2 separate regions of the Homo sapiens genome follow, and region 2 is linked to region 1. Evidence: fine-mapped expression QTL. A gene starts in region 1. The other region holds a variant in brackets. All regions are shown on one strand. Distances are from middle to middle.

Region 1 (11,030 bases):
AAATAGACTGGAGCTAGAGTTTTCCATAAGGTGTCCCTGAGTCTTTAACATGCAAATGAGTTGCTTCCCTCGGGGTATTGTAAAAGACCCTGTCAGGCGTGAAATATGTCTGTCAATTGAAAACATTTTTCCTTATTAAACCCTTTGTTAATGAATCACCTGCCCTGTTCTGCTTACTAGCCTTTTTGACTTTCACCTGAGTCACCTCTCCTAACAGTACATACCTTACAGGGGGTCTGAGGCCACCAAAACCCTTAAACCTAATCACTAGATAATAACACTAGCAAGAACTAGCCTTTATATTAAAATAGAGCCCTTTACACTCAACTCATTAGATATTCCACACAACCCAGTGAGGAGAGACAAATATTATTACCATCCCCAGGTATAAATGAGGAAACCAAGGAGCAGAGAGGGTGAGAGATTTGTCCCAGGTGGCTCAGCTAGTAAAATGGCTAAGAGCTTGAGCAGGGCCTTCCCACTCATTCCAAGTATTCAGCCCTTCTCTTTATGACAGGTAACGTCTTTGATAGGAACACCTGGACTCCTGTTCACTAAAGTCCTTACTGCTGTTCTCAAGTAAATGCAACTGTTGCTGTGGGCAGAGACTATGATTTCTGACCCAGTGCCAGGCATGTGGGAGGCACTGTTTGGAGCCCCCAAAATCAACAGGATGTCACAAGATCAACCAATGCCTCCCACTAGAAACAAGCCATTTCAGTCTATCAAATGTTTAGGAGAGCTGCAAAGCTGACATGGCTGTTTTATTGTCAAATCAATGACAAGAATGGAATCCATCTCGCTGGACCACAGGAAACACCCCAGTAGGTTATGAAAATGAAGCAACAGGAGAGTCTGGGACGTACAAATGGGAAGCTGATGGTCACACGAAATGTCCGTCCCCTTGACAGAACTAAATGGGAAACCAAGCACTTACTGTTCATCGGAGTCAGTGACTAGCTAGGCCTTTTCAGTTTCCATCCATTGGCAGCCCTCTCCCTATGCTACATTTCAGGACTAAAGGCCTGGAATCACCTTTCCCTGTTTGGTGCACAAATGAGAATTACCACAGAGAAAAGGCACTTAGGTCTCTAGTTCCATGAAAAGTGACCATGGCCTCCTCCCATTTCCTAGAGAGACTATTATACCAATGAGCATTATTTCTTCTAGTCTGCCCCCAAAACTGAAAAAAGACCCAAAAATACCCTTGGAGAGAGTGATAGGGTCTTCAGAAGAACCTGGTCCCTGATATGGATAGAAAGCACACAAAGTGAATGATACCATCATGCCTCAAGTCTGGAAAGATGCCAAAGACACCAAGTCAATAGCAAGGGACTGTGTGAAGTTGGCCTGAGCAGGTTTACAGTCTGCCCTCCCTAAGATAGTAATGTAGTCCAGGAACCAAATTGTATTTATTTATTTATTTTGAGATGAAGTCTCATTCTGTCGCCCAGGCTGGAGTGCAGTGGCGCAATCTCGGCTCACTGCAAGCTCCGCCTCCCGGGTTCCAGCCATTCTCCTGCCTCAGCCTCCTGAGTAGCTGGGACTACAGGCACCCGGCACCACGCCCAGCTAATTTTTTTGTATTTTTTTTAGTAGAGACGGTGTTTCACCATGTTAGCCAGGATGGTCTCGATCTCCTGACCTCGTGATCCGCCCGCCTTGGCTTCCCAAAGTGCTGGGATTACAGGCGTGAGCCACCGCGCCCGGCTAGGAACCAAATTTTAATCAAACTCCCTTTCCTAGTGTTTGATGCCTAAGCACTCAAGGTCCTTAAATCAATGTTGATTAAATAAAGGAATCCCGGGAGGCTGAAGCAAGAGAATTGCTGGAACCCGAGAGGCAGAGGCTGCAGTGAGCCAAGATCGTGCCACTGCACTCCAGCCTGGGCGACAGAGCAACACTCTGTCTCAAAAAATAAAAAAAGGAATCCCTGACTGATGCCAAGGTCCCAGAATAGACAACAAAAATAATTCTCACCCAGGCAAGGAATAGAAATCCTCCATTCAGTCCATCCTAGGAAAGGCAGACTGAGGGAGAATAGGGCAAAGCCAGATGCAAAGAGCAAGCAGCAGGTAAGAGAAGAGAGTGAGCTTCCAACGGGAGAGCTACAGTACCAAGCACTTATTAGCTCATTAACTCACACAACCAGATTCCGAGGTGCATGCTATTAGAGCTTCAATCTATGGATAAGGAAGTGGTGTTTTAGAAAAGGTAGAAAACTTGGCCAAGGAGCTGGTAAGTGATGGAGGCAGAACTTGAATCCATGTATGACTGCTCCCACCAAGAGAGCAAAAAGTGCACAAGAACAAGCAGCTTGCTGGGCCCTGAAATAGGCCACTGGAGTCCCTGCAACATGGAAACCTTAACCCAGGAGGCATATTTAGTGAGTTACCCTGGTGAAGAAATGGATGGCTGACCCAACTAAATTTTTTTTTTTTAGACGGAGTCTTGCTCAGTCGCCCAGGCTGGAGTGCAGTGACACGATCTCGGCTCACTGCAGCCTCCGTCTCCCGGGTTCAAGCTGTTCTCCTCCTCAGCCTCCCAAGTAGCTGGGACTACAGGCACACACCACTACGCCCAGGTAATTTTTTTGTATTTTTGGTAGAGATGGGGTTTCACCATGTTGGCCAGGCTGGCATTGAACGCCTGACCTCAAGTGATTCGCCCACCTCAGCCTCCCAAAGTGCTGGGATTACAGGTGTGAGCCACCGCACCCGGCCCCAACTAATATTCTTACAGGTCCTTTGTCTGACAAGAAAATGACTGCATAGCAGAAAGTAAGAATATGCACACTCTTCTAGTACAGATCAAATCGCACATCCCTGAGGCCAGTTGAGAAATGGCCAAGCAAAGAATGACCCAATAAGGTAGAATATGATGTAACCAGGAAAAATGACAAGTATAGACTACATTAAAATCTGTATATAAATTAATATGGAGGGAGTTAACAGTGTACAAAGTAATATGCACATATTTACAATCACCAAAAAAGTAAAACTGGCAAATAAAGACAGAAAGACCCGTAACCAGGTGTGAAGAGATAGTGCTTTAAGTTCACAGGATTTTTTTTCCTATAAAGCAGTGGTACTCAACGTATGGTCCCCAGACCAACAGCAACTGCATCACTTGGGTGCATGTTAGAAACGCCAATTCTTGGTCCTCATACCAGACTTACAGAATCAGAAACTTTGGGGATGGGGTCCAGTACTGTGTGTTGTTACTAGCTCTCCAGGTGACTCTGGTGCATGCTAAAGTTTGAGAACCACTGTAGTAAGAAAATTATTTTATTTATTTTCCTTTTTTTCTTTTAATACAGACGGGAGTCTCACTATGTTGCCCAGCCTGGTGTTGAACTCCTGCCCTCAAGCAATCCTCCCATCTTGGCCTCCCAAAGTGCTGGGATTACAGGCATCAGCCACCACATCCAGCCCCAAGAAAATTATTAAATAAAACATATGAAGCCACAGATAAAGTCTAATTCACTTCAACTCTGCAAATATTTCTTGAGCACCTACTAAGTGCCAAGTATCATGGAGGTAAACAATAAATACTTGTTGAATGACTTTCTTGTTAGTAGAAAGTAAATGCCACTTAACCCTGGGAGAGGGCTGTTCTAGGTGTCTTATCTAAAGGTTGCTCTCCACACACACTGGCTGCTGTTAGCACATATCTACTGTGTGATCTGGAAGCCCAGGGCCCTGCAAGATGCTGGAGATAAGCAGCGGTCTGGGGCACGTTCGCAAGACCGGGTGGAGGGCCAGGATATGGGCATCGCCCCCTGCTCTTGCCCAGACCACGCTCCAGCTCCAGCTGCTTCTGCCTCGGAACTCACAGGGCCACCAGGGGGTGAAGGCGTCTGGGTGAGCCACCTCCGGCCCTCCTCCAGCTCTGCCCACTCGGGTGCCTGCAAGACTGTGCCACTGAAGTGGACAGGTCACATGAAAGCCCACTGGTGTGCCAAACTGGAGAAGTCACTGCAGGGGGGCGGGGCAATGCGAGTCACCCGAGCCACGTGGCCGCGCGCCGGGCCCAGGTGACAAGGTCATGGGGCTGTCCCTCCCGGCGCCCAGGGCGGCTGCACAACCGGAGCAGAGGCCGACTCCCGGCGTGTCCATGCCGGTTCCCTCGCGCTCCAGGCGCGGTGCGGCCCTGCCAGGCTGGTCGGCCCGAGCTCTGCGCCGGCCTCCGGCGAGCTGCCCCTACTCACCCCGAGGGAAGCAGAGCCGCGGCGCCCGGCTTCCGGCCGCAACCCGGTAGCGGGGAATTAGCTGGGAACCGTGCGGGGACAGCCACCTGACTGCGCTTAGTGAAGCCGAGGCGCGCGCGGCCTGCCGGGACTTGTAGTTCCTGGTTCCCCACGCCGCGATCCCGCGGGCAGTACTGTGGAGGCACAGGGGTCTCGGGCTTACTCCGTCAGGTGGCCTTGTTGCTTTGCCAGGGCGACGGACTTGGAATATTACTGAAATATTTTCTTCAAGACATTCTAACTACGTCCCAGGTTCGTGTTTAATGAAAGATGAAGTGGATTTGTAGATTTTTTTTTTTTGAGACTGAGTCTCGCTCTGTCGCCCAAGCAGTACAGCTAATTTTTGTATTTTTTTTAGAGATGGGGTTTCACCATGTTGGCCAAGCCGGTCTCAAACTCCTGACCTCAAATGATCCGCCCGCCCAAAGTGCTGGGATTACAAGAGTGAGCCACTGCGCCCGACCTCGTAGATTTTATTCATTCATTCATTCATTCATTCATTCATTTTGAGACAGAGTCTCACTCTGTCGCCCAAGCTGGAGTGCAGTGGCCCATCTCGCCTCACTGCAACCTCCGCCTCCCGGGTTCAAGTGATTCTCCTGCCTCAGCCTCCTGAGTAGCTGGGATTACAGGAGTGTGCTACCACGCCCTGCTAATTTTTTGTATTTTTAGGAGTGACGGGGTTTCGCCATTTTGCCCAGGCTGGTCTTGAACTCCTGAACTCAGGCAATCCACCCGCCTTGACTTCCCAAAGTGCTGGGATTACAAGCCTGAGCCACCTCACCGGGCCATAGATTTTAAATAAGATATTGGAACTAGTAGGCGAAGAAGAAATTTACTGACAATTGATGTATGCTGGCGGGGCGGTGGCTCACGCCTGTAATCCCAGCAGGCCAAGGCTAGCAGATCACCTGAGGTCGGGAGTTTGAGACCAACCTGACCAACATGGAGAAACCCCGTCCCTACTAATAATAGCAAAAATTAGCCAGGCCTAGTGGTGCATGCCTGTAATCCCAGCTACTCAGGAGGCTGAGGCACTAGAAACCCGGGAGGCAGAAGTTGCGGTGAGCCGAGGTCACGCCATTGCACTCCAGCCTAGGCAACAACAGCGAAACTCCGTCTCAAAAATAATAATAATAATGCTGGCTGGGCAGGACGCAGTAGCTCACACCTGTAATCCCAGCACTTTGGGAGGCTGAGGCGGGCAGATCACCTGAGGCTAGGGGTTGGAGACCAGCCAGGCCGACATAGTGAAACCCCATTTCTACTAAAAATAGAAAAATTAAGCCGGGTGCGGTGGCTCATTCCTGTAATCCCAGCACCTTGGGAGGCCAAGGTGGGCGGACCACTTGAGGCCGGGAATTTGAGACCAGCCTGGCCAACATAGTGAAATCTGTCTCTGCTAAAAATACAAAAATTAGCCTGGTGTGGTGGTGCACGTCTGGAATTTCAGCTACTCAGGAAGCTGAGGCAGGAGAATCGCTTGAACCCGGGAGGCGGAGGTTGCAGTGAGCTGAGATCACGCCACTGCACTCCAGCCTAGGCAACAGAGTGAGACTCTGTCTCCAAAAAGAAAAAAAAGAAAAAGAAAAATTAGCCCAGCATAGTGGCGGGCACCTGTTATCCCAACTACTCGGGAGGCTGAGGTGGGAGAATTGCTTGAACCCAGGAGGTGGAGGTTGCAGTGAGCTGAGATTGGGCCACTGCACTCCAGCCTGGGCAACAGAGCAAGACTCGTCTCAAAATAAATAAATAAATAAATATAATATGCTAGCTAATCTTAGTTATCTTTGGCCCTTATTCATTCATTCACTGATCTCCATTATCAAATGTTGACTTATAAGATGCACTTTGAAGACATGTATCAAAAACATTTCTCTTTTTTTTTTTGAGACAGGGTCTGGCTGTGTTGCCCAAGCTGGAGTGTAGAGGCTCCATCACTGTAGCCTCAACTTCCTGTCCTCAAGGTACCCTCCTGCCTCAGTCTGTGGAGTAGCTGGGACTACAAGCACATACTGCCACGCCTGGCTAAATTTTTTAAATTTTTTCTCAAGAAAAGCTGGGGGGTGTGGTCTCACTATATTGCCCAGGCTGGTCTCGAATTTCTGTGCTAAGCCATCCTCTGGCCTTGGCCTCCCAAAGTGCTGGGATTACAGGTGTGAGCCACCACGCCAGGCCTCAGACGTTTGTTTATTCTATAAACATCTCTTGAGCTATTTTTTTCATGGGGGAATTAATCTATCAGTCCAATGCAGTTCCAATCAAATTTCCAACATAATTTTTTCTGGACCTTCACAAACTAATCAAAAGTGTGTATGAAAAAACAAAGGGCAGCGCAGTGGCTCGTGCCTGTAATCCCAGCACGTTGGGAGGCTAAGGCAGGTGGATCAGTTGAGGTCAGGAGTTCATCACCAGCCTGGCCAACATGGTAAAACCCCATCTCTACTAAAATACAAAAATTAGCCAGGCATGGTGGTGCACACCTGTAATCCCAGCTACTCAGAAGGCTGTGGCAAGAGAATCCTTGAACCCGGGAGACAAATGTTGCAGTGAGCCAAGATCATACCACTGAATTCCAGCCTGGGTGACAGAGCGAGACTTTGTCTCAAAAAAAAAAAAAAATACAAAAAACAAAAAAAAACCACCACTTTAAGGCAAAGCATAGCCAAAACATTCTTGAAGAAGAAAAATGTGTTTCAAGGACGCACCCTTCCATGTCAACATGTATTATAAAGCTATACAAATTAAGACCATGTGATATTGGAATAGGGAAAGGCAGAGGGGGAAATGGAACCACCTACAGAGCCCAAACATGCAGGCATCTATGAAATGAGGTATGGCTGGAATTATAGTTCAGTGAGGGAAGATAGAGTATTCAGTACATGGGCTGGAACAACCAGTTACCTGTTGGATCCCCTATGCAAAAACTAATTCAAGGTAGGTTAAAGACTTACAGGGGAAATTAAAGCATTTTAAAATTACAACTTTTTTTTTCTTCTTACTATCGTTCCCCAAAATTATAACTTTTACAAGAAAAGAAAACATCCTTATGATCTCAGGGTAGGGTTTATTAAGTGCCATAATCACAAACTGTAAATAAAACTTTGATAAATTTAAACTACATTAAATTTAAGCACTTGTCTTTATTGAAAGACAGCATAGACTGAGCACAGTGGCTTATCCCTGTAACCACGACAGTTTGGGAGGCCAAGGCAGGAGAATCGCTTGAAGCTGGGAGTTAGAGACCAGCCTGAGCAACATAGCCAGACCCTATGAGATTACAGAAAAATTAAAAATTAGCTGGGCATGGTGGCGCATGCCTGTAGTCCCAGCTACTCTGGAGGCCAGGGAGGGAGGATCTTGAGCCCAGGAGTTCAAGGCTGCAGTGAGCTTTGATGAGTCTTGCCACTGCACTCCAGCTGGGCAACAGAGAGAGAGCTAAACCCGGTCACTAAAAAAGAAAAAAAAAGATAATTGCAGCACAGAGGTAGCAGTAGTATAGAGTTAAATAACACAGCCCCCACCATCTAAAGTTTGCAATGTATAGGCATTAAGATAAGAAGATTGATAACTTCCAAATAATGTGAGAAGTGTTAAGATTGAGGTATGAACAAAGTGGCTTAGGAACAGAAAAAAGGGAGCATTAGGCCAGGTGCAGTGGCTCACACCTGTAATCCCAGCACTTAGGGAGGCCAAGGCAGGCAGATCACTTGAGGTCAGGAATTCCAGCCCAGCCTGGCCAACATGGTGAAACCCCGTCTCTACTAAAAATACAAAACTTAGCTGGGCGTGGTGTCACACGCCTGTAGTCCCAGCTGCTCTAGAGGCTAAGGCAGGATACTCGCTTGAACCTAGGAGGCAGAGGTTGCAGTGAGCCGAGATCATGTCACTGCACTCCAGCCTGGGTGACAGAGCAAGACTCCATCTCAAAAAATAATAATAAATTAAAAATAAAATAATAATAAGGGCCAGGCACAGTGGCTCATGCCTAAAATCCCAACTACTCAGGAGGCTCACGTGGGAAGATAACTTGAGCCCAGAAGGTCAAGGGTACAGTGAGGCATGATTGCACCACCACCGCATTCCAGCCTGGGTGACAGAGAAAAACCCAGTCTAAAAAAAAAAATCACCTGGAGAGCTTTAAAAGTCTTCCTGGGCCATAGCTGGCACTAGCACCCCTTCAACTACTGGGAATGGGACTGAGTCATAGGTATTTTGTAGAGCTCCCTGTAGGATTTCAATGCACAGCTGAGGTTAAAAACCCCGATTTAGAGTCAAAGAATCTTATTTGAACTGGGTGACTCACAGCAGGTTTTCTAATTTTGGCAGAGCTTTAGTTTCTGTCTTGATAAAATGGAGTTAATACTATTGTCAGTCCTATCTACCTCAAAGGGCTTGTGAGGATCAAGTGCAATGGTGCAAGTGCTTTGGAAGCTGAATGTTGCTGTTCAGAGGAGTGTCATGACACTGAGAAGAAAATCCAAACTCTTTGCCTGATGTGGGGAAAAGCAAGAGAGATCAGATTGTTACTGTGTCTGTGTAGAAAGAAATAGACATGGGAGACTCCATTTTGTTATGTACTAAGAAAAATTCTTCTGCCTTGAGATTCTGTGACCTTACCCCTAACCCCGTGCTCTCTGAAACATGTGCTGTGTCAAACTCAGGGTTAAATGGATTAAGGGCGGTGCAAGATGTGCTTTGTTAAACAGATGCTTGAAGGCAGCATGCTCCTTAAGAGTCATCACCACTCCCTAATCTCAAGTACCCAGGGACACAAAAACTGCGGAAGGCCGCAGGGACCTCTGCCTAGGAAAGCCAGGTATTGTCCAAGTTTTCTCCCCATGTGATAGTCTGAAATATGGCCTCGTGGGAAGGGAAAGACCTGACCGTCCCCCAGCCCAACTCCTGTAAAGGGTCTGTGCTGAGGAGGATTAGTATAAGAGGAAGGCATGCCTCTTGCAGTTGAGACAAGAGGAAGGCATCTGTCTCCTGCCCGTCCCTGGGCAATGGAATGTCTCGGTATAAAACCCGATTGTACGTTCCATCTACTGAGATAGGGGAAAAGCGCCTTAGGGCTGGAGGTGGGACATGCGGGCAGCAATACTGCTTTGTAAAGCATTGAGATGTTTATGTGTATGCATATCTAAAAGCACAGCACTTAATCCTTTACCTTGTCTATGATGCAAAGACCTTTGTTCACGTGTTTGTCTGCTGACCCTCTCCCCACTATTGTCTTGTGACCCTGACACATCCCCCTCTCGGAGAAACACCCACGAATGATCAATAAATACTAAGAAAACTCAGAGGCTGGCGGGATCCTCCATATGCTGAACGCTGGTCCCCAGGGTCCCCTTATTTCTTTCTCTATACTTTGTCTCTGTGTCTTTTTCTTTTCCAAGTCTCTCGTTCCACCTTACGAGAAACACCCACAGGTGTGGAGGGGCAACCCACCCCTTCAGCCTGACCCTCCTGGCTCCCCAGAGGCTGGCTCCACTCCCTCTCTCCAGCCTCATTTCCCACCCTTCTCTTCCCTGGCTCACTCCACTCCAACCGCATCAGCTTCCTTTCTGTTCTCAATCTGCCAAGCTGGCTGCTATCTGGGCAGCCGTTACACTTGCTATTCCCCCATATCTTCAATGGTCTGCTCCATCCTGGCAATTTGTTCTCTGCTAATGTTACTCTCCAGAGAGGTCATCCCCAATTACCCCTATCTCCCCACTCACCCCCACATTCCCTGAGACACACTCTACCTCCTTACACTGTTTTATTTATAAAATTTATTTAAAATCACTTATCAATACTTGAATTTTGTGGGGAGGGGGCAGTTTGGTACAGATGTTCTTTATCTTGGTGGACCTTATGTCCGAATATAAATGATTAAAGCTCAGATCATTTCTTCTTCATGTCTTCCCATGTTACAACAGTGGTACAGGCTTAATGTGAAGACTCAAACTTGCTTTGTTGTTGTTGTTGTTGTTGTTATTGTTGTTTTTGAGACCGAGTCTCATTCTGTCACCCAGGCTGGAGTGCAACGGCACCATCTCGGCTCACTGCAACCTCTGCCTCCCCGGTTCAAGCGATTCTCCTGCCTCAGCCTCTCAAGTAGCTGGGATCACAGACACCTGCCACCACGCCCGCCTGATTTTTTGTATTTTTAGTAGAGACAGGGTTTCGCCATGTTGGCCAGGCTGGTCTCAAACTCCTGGCCTCAAATGATCCATCCGCTTTAGCCTCCCAAAGTGCTGGGATTACAGACATGAGCCACCACAGCCAGCTTATGATGTGAAGAGTCAGACTTGTATTTTCTTTTTTTTTTTTGGAGATGGAGTCTCACTCTGTTGCCCAGGCTGGAGTGCATCGGCACAAACTCGGCTCACTGCAACTTCCGCCTCCCAAGTTCAAGTAATTCCCCTGCCTCAGCCTCCCGAGTAACTGGGATTACAGGCATGCACCACCATGCCTGGCTAATTTTTGTATTTTAGTCGAGACTGGGTTTCACCATGTTAGCCAGGCTGGTCTCAAACTCCTGACCTCAGGTGATCCGCCCGCCTCAGCCTCTCAAAGTGCTGGGATTACAGGTGTGAGCCACAGTGCCCAGCCTGAGAACAAGGATTTATCTGCCTCTGACTGCTGAGGAATCCCAGAAAAGGCACATCACCTAAGCCCTTCAGAGTTCTTATCTGTTATAGGGAAAGGAAAAATTCCATGTGAAAAACAGCTGATAAGGCCAGGAGCCATGGCTCATGCCTGTAATCCCAGCACTTTGGGAGGCAGAGGTAGA
Region 2 (11,030 bases), 100 kb before region 1:
AGACAGGGTCTCATTCTGTCACCCAGGCTGGAATGCTGTGGCATCATCATAGCGCACTGCAGCCTCGAACTCCTGGACTCAAGAGATCCTCCTGCCTCAGCCTCTCAAAGTGCTGGGATTACAGGCGTGAGCCACCGTGCCCTGCCTGTTGTTTTTGTTCATGGCTTCCAAATGAATGGGACATATTTTCGGGTTAAATTCTTCCCTTGGGTTTGTTTGTAAACCTACCTTTGACAGTGGGCCCCTAAGGCTCTGGAGACAAGAGGTCAAATCTCTAGCCAGCCCCACCAGAGGCAGCTTAAAAAACAGCGAGGGGCTGGGCGCAGTGGCTCACGCCTGTAATCCCAGCACTTTGAGAGGCCAAGGAGGGCAGATCACTGAGGCTGAGGAAAGAGAATCGCTAGAACCTGGGAGACGGAGGTTGCAGTGGGTGAAGAATACGCCACTGTACTCCAGCCACGGTGACAGAGGGAGTGAGATTCCATCTCAAAAAAAAAAAAAAAAAAAACCAGCTAGGAAAGAGTCACAGGTGGAAACAGAAATCCCACAGGCTGGAGCTTCTCTGTGCTTGTGCATCAGGGTCCTGGGTGTACTGCGGTTTCCCCCTTTTTGGTCTCCCTGCAAACATCACCATTCCAGTCTAACCACAGAATGTGCCCCTTGCTTCTGCTGCTTAAATCTGAAATGACTAAAATATCAAACCTGGGAAACAGTGGAATTTGTCATGGGAGCTTCAGAACCACAGGTGCCCCTGGACAGACATAACATGGAAATGACTGCAAAATGCCAAACTGCTCCTGCTCAGTTAAAAAAGTGAGCTGCGCCTAAATCACCAGATGGGCAGGAGGACCTGGGGGTGTGGGGTGAAGTGAGCGCCCACATTTCCTGTCCTATGCTTCTTCCATCAAAGAAGGAAAAAATGAAAAAGAGAAATTTGAAAGAGTCAATAAGCACCCCGCACTCCCCCATCCCACCCCCAAACAAAGCAAGCTGAAACTCTAAGGAGCTCATGGCCAGGGTGCTCAGCGGCCCCACCAGCAGGGTCACACCCTGACCATTAGGACCCCTGGGTCCAGGTTCTACCTCTTTGCCACAGAGCAGAGGCCTCCCTCCTGTGGGCTCCTCCTGCCTCCCACACGGATGCCAATCTGGACCCCAAGAAGGAGGGCACCAATTAGAGAAGTTTTAGCCCAAGACCCTGGGCCTCAGCCTCACAGTCTGGCCCTGACCTCACATTTCTGCTTTGTTTCTATGCTTTGGTCAACATGCCCACGAAACAGGCTGCGCCTGGCTTGTCTGAGACAGTGCCCATCACCCTAGGCCCACAGTCCTCCTGGAGCCTGAGTCCAGCACAGCAGAAGGCCTGGAGACATGCAGTCAGACCGGCAGATTTGGAGTCAGGCTGCTGGCTGGAGCCCCGGCTCTGCCACCTAAAAGCTGTGTGACTGTGGGTAAGTTATATAACCTCTCTGAACACCAGTTTCTCCACCAAAAATATGGTGATAATGGTTACAGTGGAAGCACAACCCCACCTCCGCCCCCATTTCCCACTACTATGAGCAGAGTACTGGCACTCAACATGGAACCAGACACTAGCAGCTGCTGGAAAAAACATCGATTGCTCTTAGGACAGCCACATCGAGTTTCACAGAGGGCTCTGATACACACCAGGGCTGAGAGTTATGCTCTAGACGGTTCACTGGAATTCACAACTTCCCCACAGAGCAAAACCATATGGAGGGTGAACATGCAGGCTCTGGAGCAGGCTACCTCTATTCCCTCCCCTTAGTGGTAAGCCTTGTGACCCTGCCCAAAGGGTTGATAGCTCTGAGCCTCAGTCTCCCAACTGATGATATGGGGGTGATTATGGCACCTCCCTTGTGAGGCTGTTGTAAGAATTAAAGAATTAAAGAATATAAATCACTCTGCAAAAAAGAAGTTATATATTAATTACTATCCATCTGTAGTTCCTAATCTTTGAGATTCATGGGAAGTTATCATACTTCCCAAAAAGCATGCACATCTCCTCAGGGTTTGTCCACAATTTCTAGAGTCCTGGGCTCCTTACCTCACACTAAGGAACCCTGGCATGGCCCTGCACACCTATCCCCACCTCCACACATACAGAAATGGTCTCATCACTTCCAGTCCCAAACCCTGTGGTTATAAAGCTTCTCCCCTGCCACCTTGTCCCCAGGTGAGTCACAAACCCTACCACTTGTCCTGTTTCCATCCCCTGGCACATACGCTCTGCTGCCAGATCCACTAAGCCTGGCCTTAATCATTCAGCCTAGCTGCCCCCTCACCCTCTCCCAGTCCCCCTGACGCCATATTTGCATTCAGTGCTTGTCTGAGCCTGGGAGATTTATAGCACAGGGCTGAGGTTCTTAAACCGCACATAAGCACCGGAAGATGCCTCACACACTGAGAGGTAAAGTCTTTGCGGAGGCTTAATTATGCACAGATGTTGTGATCGGGAGCCAGTGTGCAAAAGCAGTCTATCTCCAGTTTTAAGAGCTGAACTGGGTTCACAGTGCAAAATTCACTTCCCCCTTGTTATGTGTTTAGGCAAAATTAATTACTCAAGAGCCTTAATTCCACCACTGTCTTAGGAAGGGTGTGCAAGTTTTGGAAACAGCAGGTCAAATTGGTATATTCATTATTTACCCATTTGGCATCTTCATTTGAAAAATGTGTGTTATTGTTATTATTGCATGTCTTGGTCTGGCACTTGCCAGTTGGCCCCAGCCAGGGGACAATTTTGCTGTTTCCATGGGAACAGTAGAGGAGATGGTTCTGTCTGGCTCATAGTTCTGGCTCTGAGGGGCACCCCTGCCGGTAAATGGCAGCAGAGTATCCTGAGAGGAGCACCACACTTGAAGTCAGAAAATCTGGGATGTTGCCCTAGCTCCTCTACTCAAACTGTCCTCTGCAATATGGGCTGATGCCTGCTGGAAGGACTCAACACCATAGTACCTGCAGACTGTTCAATGCAGCAGCTCCTGATGAAGAAGAAATAATCAATATATATTGCCTATAGTCAATACTTCTTAGAAGCACTCACCAGAGCCCTTTATCCTGGGTAGAATTACGTACTTCCTCTTGGGAATCCACAGAAACACAGATGAATGCCTGTCATGGTGCTAACAAACCTGCACTGCAACAACACATTGCTGTGTCTGTCCCTCCACTAGATGAGAAGTTTTCCAGAGCAGGGACAAACCTCAGCTCCCAGCACAGCAACAAGCTTGGGAATAAAAGAAATGGAATAAGCAAGTAGAAGCATGTATTAGACTCTATAGCATTATGCTAATTAGTTAACATTATCACTTGTCTCAAAGAGCCAAGTTTTCACTGAACTGGTGGTTTGAGCTCCAAGGCTGGGGCAGTGACACCAGATCTAGGCTGCACTCCTGGATTTACACACACAAGAGGGTCTGTACATCCACACCGACAATGGCAGCCAACAAAATGCCAGTCAAGCATACTGGGAGTATGGAGACGTACCCAACCCTCACCACACACAAAGAGCTAAACTTCATGGGTTCTATCTTCCACCACAGTCAATGTGTCAATACACTGCACTGATCAACACAGCTGCGGTTCTTCCTCCTGCGGATTCTCAAGTGGTTAGAATAGACACATCTTCAGTCATTCCATCCCTGTTAGTCAATCAGGAGAGCAAAAATATAGACACTTCCTCCATTTCTCATGATGTCTTCAAAAGCCAAAAGGACACCTTAGGGAAGAATGAGAGAGTCCCTTTTCCCTGATCCAATGTTCTGAGCCATCCTCCCCAAGAACAGCACAGCTTGACTGTTGGCTCTAGAACCTGCACATGGAGCTCCTGAGGGCTTGGTGACCCCTCTCGTGCATTCTCCAGGCCTGGTAAAGAAGAGGGAAGGGTGATCCATCCTAGAGTTGGAAGCTAAGCTCAGTGTAGACAACCAGAAGAGCCCTCCAAGCCCTGCACTGTTGGGATAAAGGGGGTAACCCTGTTTTAATAGGCATACACCTCAGGAAGGACAAATGTGTTGGAAGAACAGTGGTGTAGCATACATCTCTCTCCCCAGTTCCTGTGTGCTCTGAGAGAACACCAGGATGGTCCTTAAAGACCAGCTCCGGCCGGCCGCGGTGGCTCACGCCTATAATCCCAGCACTTTGGGAGGCCGAGGCAGGCGGATCATTTGAGGTCAGGAGTTTGAGACCAGCCTGGCCAAAATGGCAAAACCGTGTCTCTACTAAAAATACAAAAATTAGCCAGGTGTGGTGGCACACACCTGTAGTCCTAGCTACTCAGGAGGCTGAGGCAGGAGAATCGCCTGAACCCGGGAGGTGGAGGTTGCAGTGAGCAGAGATTGCACCACTACGCACCAGCCTGGGTGACAGAGTGAGACTCTGACTCAGAAAAATCATAATAATAAAATAATTAATTAAAAAAAAAAAAAAAGGACCAGCTCCAGGGCCAGGAGCAGTGGCTCACACCTGTAATCTCAGCACTTTGGGAGGCCAAAGTGGGCAAATCATTTGAGGTCGGGAGTTCAAGACTAGCCTGACAACATGGTGAAACCCCATCTCTACTAAAAAAAAAAATACAAATATTAGTAAGGCATGGTGGCACATGCCTATGATCCCAGCTACTTGGGAGACTGAGACAGGAGAATTACTTGAACCCAGGAGGCGGAGACTGCAGTGAGCTGAGATCGCGCCACTGCACTCCAGTCTGGGCAACAGAGCGAGACTCTGTCTCAAAAAAAAAAAAAAAAAGAACACCAACTCTAGTGCCAACTTCTCAGCAGAGCCTGCCCTGACCCAGTAGGCCATGGGAGTCCCTACTTCTGAATCCTCAGAGCATGTAGAAGCCGTACTTCTCATGGGGCACTGACAGCTGCGACTTCATATTATCTGATATTGTTTCCCACATTAAGTGTCTCTTATTACATAGAACAGTTCTGCTATAATACTTGTTTTGAAAACACAAATTTGTTCCAATGCAATTGATATGTTAGGGAATAGTTTGATCATAATGCAAATTTTGGATGTGCTTATGTGTACTATCATCTGCGAGAAACACTGTGAATGCAGAAAGCTGCATCCAGCAGAGCCGTGCCACATTGGAATACACAAAACAAACACACCTCGACATCGCTGCGAGTCGGTGAGTCACCCACATCTGGCCTTACAACTTTCTGTCCCATTTCTTTTTTGTTGTTGTTGTTGTTCCTTGAGACGCAGTCTCGCTCTGTTGCCCAGGCTGCAATGCAATGGCATGATCTCAGCTCACTACAACGTCTGCCTCCTGGGTCCAAGCGATTCTCCTGTCTCAGCCTCCCGAGTAGCTGAGATTACAGGAGTGCACCACCATGCCCAGCTACTTTTTGTATTTTTAGTAGAGACAGGGTTTCACCATGTTGGCCAGGCTGGTCTTGAACTCCTTCCCTCAAGTGATCTGCCCACCTCCGCCTCCCAAAGAACTGCGATTACTGCCATCAGCCACCATGCCCAGCCTCCGTCCCATTTCAAAGGACTCCTCCCACCACCCCACAAAACTAACAAGCAGCAACCCTTCTGATGCCCACTTCCACAGCAGGCTCAAGGTAAAGTGCCATGTGTATTGTGGTCTTATGTATTTCTTAGCCATTTAACATGTGTAAAACTATGCTACTGGTTTTTATTCATTCCTATCTTCTTTTCTTTCCTATATTACTGTATTACTGATGAATTTT[C/TTTTC]TTTTTTTTTTTTTTTGAGACGGAGTTTCACTCTTGTTGCCCAGACCTGAATGCAGTGGCGTGATCTCAGCTCACTGCAATCTCCACCTCCCGGGTTCAAGTGATTCTCTTGCTTCAGCCTCCCAAACAGCTGAGATTACAGGCACATGCCACCACGCCAGGCTAATTTTTATATTTTTAGTAGAGACGAGGTTTCACCATGTTGGCCAGGCTGGTCTCGAACTCCTGACCTCAGGTGATCCACCTGCCTCAGCCTCCCAAAGTGCTGGGATTACAGGTGTGAGCCACTGTGCCCAGCCACTGATGAATTTTTTTGAGTGTTGTGCCCCTAACTCTATTTTCCCCATAAGCTCTGTGGTTTCTCTTATGTGATTTTCCATAACTGCAGTATTTCTAGGGACACATATGTTTTGTTACAGAAGAACCAACTGTATGAGCCAAGGTAAAACACATGTGTTTAAAACAGTCCCAGCGTACAGTAGTGTTAGCTATCAGCATCGCCATCATCATCACCATCCCATGCCTCACAGAGGCAGAGACCACGGCATATAGGTTCTTGGCTAAGGCTCAGTGTCTTGTAGTTGTCGATTATTCAATAAACATCTGTTTAATTGACTAATGGGTCAACAATCACACTTGATATTTCTTTGCAAATTGCCTTCAAGTGATTTAATGCACATCACCAGTGATGTCATTCATCCTCAGTAAGAGGACTCAGGAAGAAGATGTCCCAATTATGTCCTGAAAGGGATGCTCAAGGCAGGGACCCACATACCGCTACACTCTTCCACCAGACCACCATACCCTGCATTGCATCGTCCCACCTACCTTCAAGAAGTCAAAATGCCTGAGCATCTGGGACACCTTCTCAGCATTCCTCCCTTCATTGAGGAAATCCAGCTCCAAAGGCAGGTTCTTCTTGGCTTCATCCACAAGCCACATAAACTCAAACTCTGGGAACAGCTGCTTCACAGCCAGAACGAGCACCTGAAATCCAACAAGCACCCCAGTCATTTGGCCCACAGCATATACCAAGGGACATTCCCTACCTTCCTGCCTGGTTCTCCCCTAGAGTAAGGGAAACTGCTCCCCTGGGGCCCATCCCTCCTCTGAATTCCAGGAGGGAAACATAGTAGGCTCCTGCTCTCCCATAAGCTTGGTACTCTGCACCAAGTCCAAGATGATGATAGCCCAACAGCCAGCATCGGTAACCATGACTACCACTTGCTGAGGGTTCCCCTCGTGCCCAGCACTAACTAAGCACTTATTTTTTATTTTATTTTATTTTTTAAGTTCTGGGATATGTGTGTAGGATGTGCAGGCTTGTTTCATAGGTAAACGTGTGTCATGGTGGTTTACTGCACCTATCAACCCATCACCTAGGTATTAAGCCTGGCATGCATTAGCTCTTTTTCCTAATGCTCTCCCCCACCCCCCAACCGTCGCCCAACAGGCCCCAGGTGTGTTGTTCCCCTCCCTGTGTCCATGTGTTCTCATTGTTCAGTTCCCACTTATAAGTGAGAACAAGCGGTCTTTGGGTTTTTTTGTTCCTGCATTAGTTTGCTGAGGATAATGGCTCCCAGCTTCATCCATGACCCTGCAAAGGACATGATCTCATTCCTTTTTATGGTTGCATAGTATTCCATGGTGTATATCTACCACATTTTCTTTATCCAGTCTCCCATTGATGGGCATTTGGGTTGATTCCACATCTTTGCTACTGCGAATAGTAAACTAAGCACTTTACTTACTACTAAACTTAATCCTTGCAACAACTCTGGGAGGCACACAGATACACATCTTATCATCCCTTTTCTGTTGTTTAGACAAGATGTCACTCTGTAGCCCAGACTGGAATGCAGTGGCGTGATCAATCACAGTTCACTGCAACCTTGACCTCCAAGGCTCAAGTGATCCTCCCACCTCAGCCTCCTGAGTGGCTGGGATTACAGATATGCATCACCATGCCCAGCTAATTTTTTTAATTTTTTTGTAGAGACAGAGTCTCACTGTGTTGCCCAGGTTGGTCTCAAGCTCCTGTCCTCAAGCAGTCCTCCTGCCTCAGCCTACCAAAGTGCTATCCCATTTTATAGATGAGGAATTTGAGGCTCTGAGGGGTTATATGATTTTCAAAAAATCTGCCCAGCAAGGAAGTACCGAGCTAGAATTCCCCCTGGGAATTCCACAGCCAACTCTACAGCCCTTGCTCTGAAACACTTAGCTCAACTGCTGCTGTGGCTGCTCCCCGATCTGTTCTGGTCTGTTCACAAAGCACTGGGAGGGTGCTGCAAATGTAACTGTCATTACTTTATTTCTTAAGTTGAATGTTTGGTGCTTGAACATTTATAATACTATTTTCTATACTTTCTGTACGTCTAAAATGTTTCATAATAAAAAACTAAATTGGAATAAGAAAACAAAGCTGGATAAGACGAGAGGAGACAGAGAGAAGGAATTTGACCACTTGGATGAAAAGCTTTGATTTTTGGCAATTTGACTCCACTGTGGATTCTTGAGTGATGACATGTTAAGAGGGGGTTTTAGAAGATGTATCTGGCATTCAGGGGTCAGTTTAATGATGTGAAATTAAAGAAGAGCCCAGTGATCTGTGCACAGCATACCACAGCCCCTGCCATGAGCAGAGACACAATCCTAAGGCTGCCCCACCACCAGGGCCCTGGATTTGAGATGGGTGCCCAAGTTCCTGGATGATGGCTCTGTAGTGGGTGAGCAAGGGTGATACCAGGGACATAGGAGGTGTTCCAGAATTCTGGGAGGGAAACAGAAGGGCCCTGACCTCCCATAAGCTCTCCTGCTGGCATTCGAAGCCAGGCCTGGGGAGAACATTGACTGATTGACCCAGTAATTCTTAGTATAAATGACAGTCCGAGTTATCTGAGAACAACCATCTCTAACCCTGGCTATAGCAGATGGCAATAAGAACTAACAAGCTGTGGGCCTGTTGGTACCAAAAGACCTTCCCCTTCCCATCTTTCCAGAAAGACTTACTGAGCCCCAGATAAAAGCCTTGTCTCATGCTTCTTTTTGCCCTGTTCTATGATATTTTGCCCAATGCTGTGTTGGCAAAAGAAATCAATCTAAAGCCAGACTATTAACTACAAGGCATTTACAGCTTTGTTTTCAAGCCCTATGTCCTGGGTGATGTACCAGACGCCATTCCAAAAAGAATCATCGCACCGTGTTATCATGCTCAATTTCTACCAAAACTTCTTTTAATTACATTTGGCTGTAGTTTAATTTCTTTTGAGTTTTGTCTGGTCTTTCATGGGCTAGACCTGTGACCTTATGATAATTGATTTAGTTTATGTTTTGTTTGTATCAAGCAAGACTAGAAGGGAGAGGGGGCAACAGAGAGGCCTGGACTGTATGCCTCAAGCCCTGGCACCTGGGCACCGCAGCCTCCAGACATCAAATCTCGTCACAGTGCCCTCAGATGGCCCTTGGCAGCAACCAGAGCAGATGCAGAGCAAGTGAACGGGAAACAGAAGTGATTCCCCCAGGCCCAGGCGGAGGCCAGCCATGCCATCTAAGTCACCTGAATTCCACTTTTCTGGGCTTGGAATGCAGGCAAGAAAAGCTATCCAGCATTTTGCTCCAATCTCAACTCCAGAGGGTCTCGCCCGAGAGGGGCAAGGAAAGGGGCCACAATGAGGCTCTCTCATTTGTCCAATCAATATTTACTGATTACCCTCCAGGTAATTACCATAGGCCAGACGTGGATATGCACAGAGAGCTACCTGTAGCCCAGTGAGGTCTCTACTTGGGGGTGAAGCTTCTGGCCAAACAGTAATTCCTCATCATTTATTGTATGGTCACTGTTTTTTGTGGAATTTTTAATTATCATTGATATCCAAGCAGCACTGAAAGGCACATTAAAGATTTTCCAGTTACTAATCAATTACATAATTAGTCATTATTAATACTATTCATTATTATTAACACTTGGTAATACCTGACATCATTAATCATAAGCAGTCTATTATATTAACTAATATTAATTGCTAGTAACTAATTAGTAAGCTAATTCATAACACAGAAAACTTTACAGTGCTCATCGAACTGGTTTCTAAGGCATCCTGTGGGTTGTGGGTCACTTCCTTGGTTACTTAAAATGAAGGGGGTTCTTTGAATAGAAGTCAGTGGTTCTCAGATTTATGGAATGTCACCATCCCCTTTATAGGAGGTCACCAATTTTAAAACTTGATACCCGCTACGAAGCCCAGAAAATGAACATACATAATTTTGCACATAATTCAAGGGGTTCACCAACCCCTTGAAATTCAGTGGGTGGGGAGGGGGTCAGGTTAAGAGTCGTCGGGTTCAAGTAGTTCGGGCTGCTGCCATTTTAGACTTTTCTTGGCTGAAGAAAGTAAAATAAAACTCAGTTTCACCGTCTGGTTTCATTCAACTCCCTTCTTAAATGAATCTACTTAGCCCACCTTAAGCAGATTCATTTCAATTTTTCTTTTTGACAACACATGCAATCAACTAAAATAAAACAGGTGTTGTTATCAATTTGACTTTTTGATTTTTCTCCCAAAATGCATCTTCTCCATAAAATTCTTCTAACAGCCAATGTTTTCACCAGTGCCTACCACCTACTCAACACTCCACAGATGTTTATTGAATACTCACATGAATGAATGAATGAGTAAATGAATGAACAAATGAATATTTCAAAGAGTTTGTCTGCTTCTCTGAGATAATTATATGTTCACATGTGTTATCCAAAGAAAATGAGTTTTTCTATTTCTGAGGTTTTAGTGGAAAGAGCCATAACTTCTGAATTTGGGGGAATCGTAATTTCAGAATGCCTGAGAATTCTCTACTTGATCTAGAACCTTATGAATCAATCAAGGTATATTTAAAAATTAATACTTCCTTCAAGGTAAAATAATAAGACTATCTTCCTATCGGGTCATTGGCTTGCAGGAGGAAAAATCAATCATGGGCCACACAGAAATGTAATGGAAAAAATGAAGAGTCACACATAAGTTTGAAAACTAGTCAATGGGCCAAGCGTGGTAGCTCACGCCTGTAATCCCACCACTTTGGGAGGCCAAGACGGACAGATCACTTGAGATCAGGAGTTCAAGACCAGCCTGGCCAACATGGGGAAACCCCATCTCTACTAAAAATATAAAAATTAGCCAGGTGTAGTGGCATGTGCCTGTAATCTCAGCTACTCAGGAGGCTGAAGCAGGAGAATTGCTTGAACCCAGGAGGCAGAGGTTGCAGTGAGCCTAGGTCATGCCACTGTACTCCAGCCTGGGCGGCAATAAA

Direction of the effects. Alleles are on the strand shown, and positions count from the first base shown. SD is a standard deviation of normalised expression in the study named.
For the expression in lymphoblastoid cells of the gene that starts at base 4,272 in region 1, allele TTTTC in region 2 goes with a higher level than allele C (small effect, 0.36 SD a copy in GEUVADIS).

Evidence for each region.
Region 2: its variant is fine-mapped to the expression of ADCK1 in lymphoblastoid cells (GEUVADIS, PIP 0.95).

The regions. Positions count from the first base shown.
Region 1 is chr14:77,793,351-77,804,380 of GRCh38, reverse strand. It overlaps ADCK1 (aarF domain containing kinase 1), which reads right to left and starts at 4,272. Exons shown (of 11, transcript NM_020421.4): 1 at 4,211-4,272. RefSeq lists enhancers at 1,436-2,275, 3,657-3,736, 3,747-3,796, 3,870-4,408, 4,409-4,947 and silencers at 3,987-4,346, 8,052-8,101, 8,112-8,161.
Region 2 is chr14:77,894,783-77,905,812 of GRCh38, reverse strand. ADCK1 (aarF domain containing kinase 1) reads right to left here. Exons shown (of 11, transcript NM_020421.4): 6 at 6,555-6,713. Among named protein-coding and RNA genes, the nearest start is that of ADCK1, 100 kb to the right of the region's middle. The variant C/TTTTC (reference allele first, on the strand shown) is at 5,727.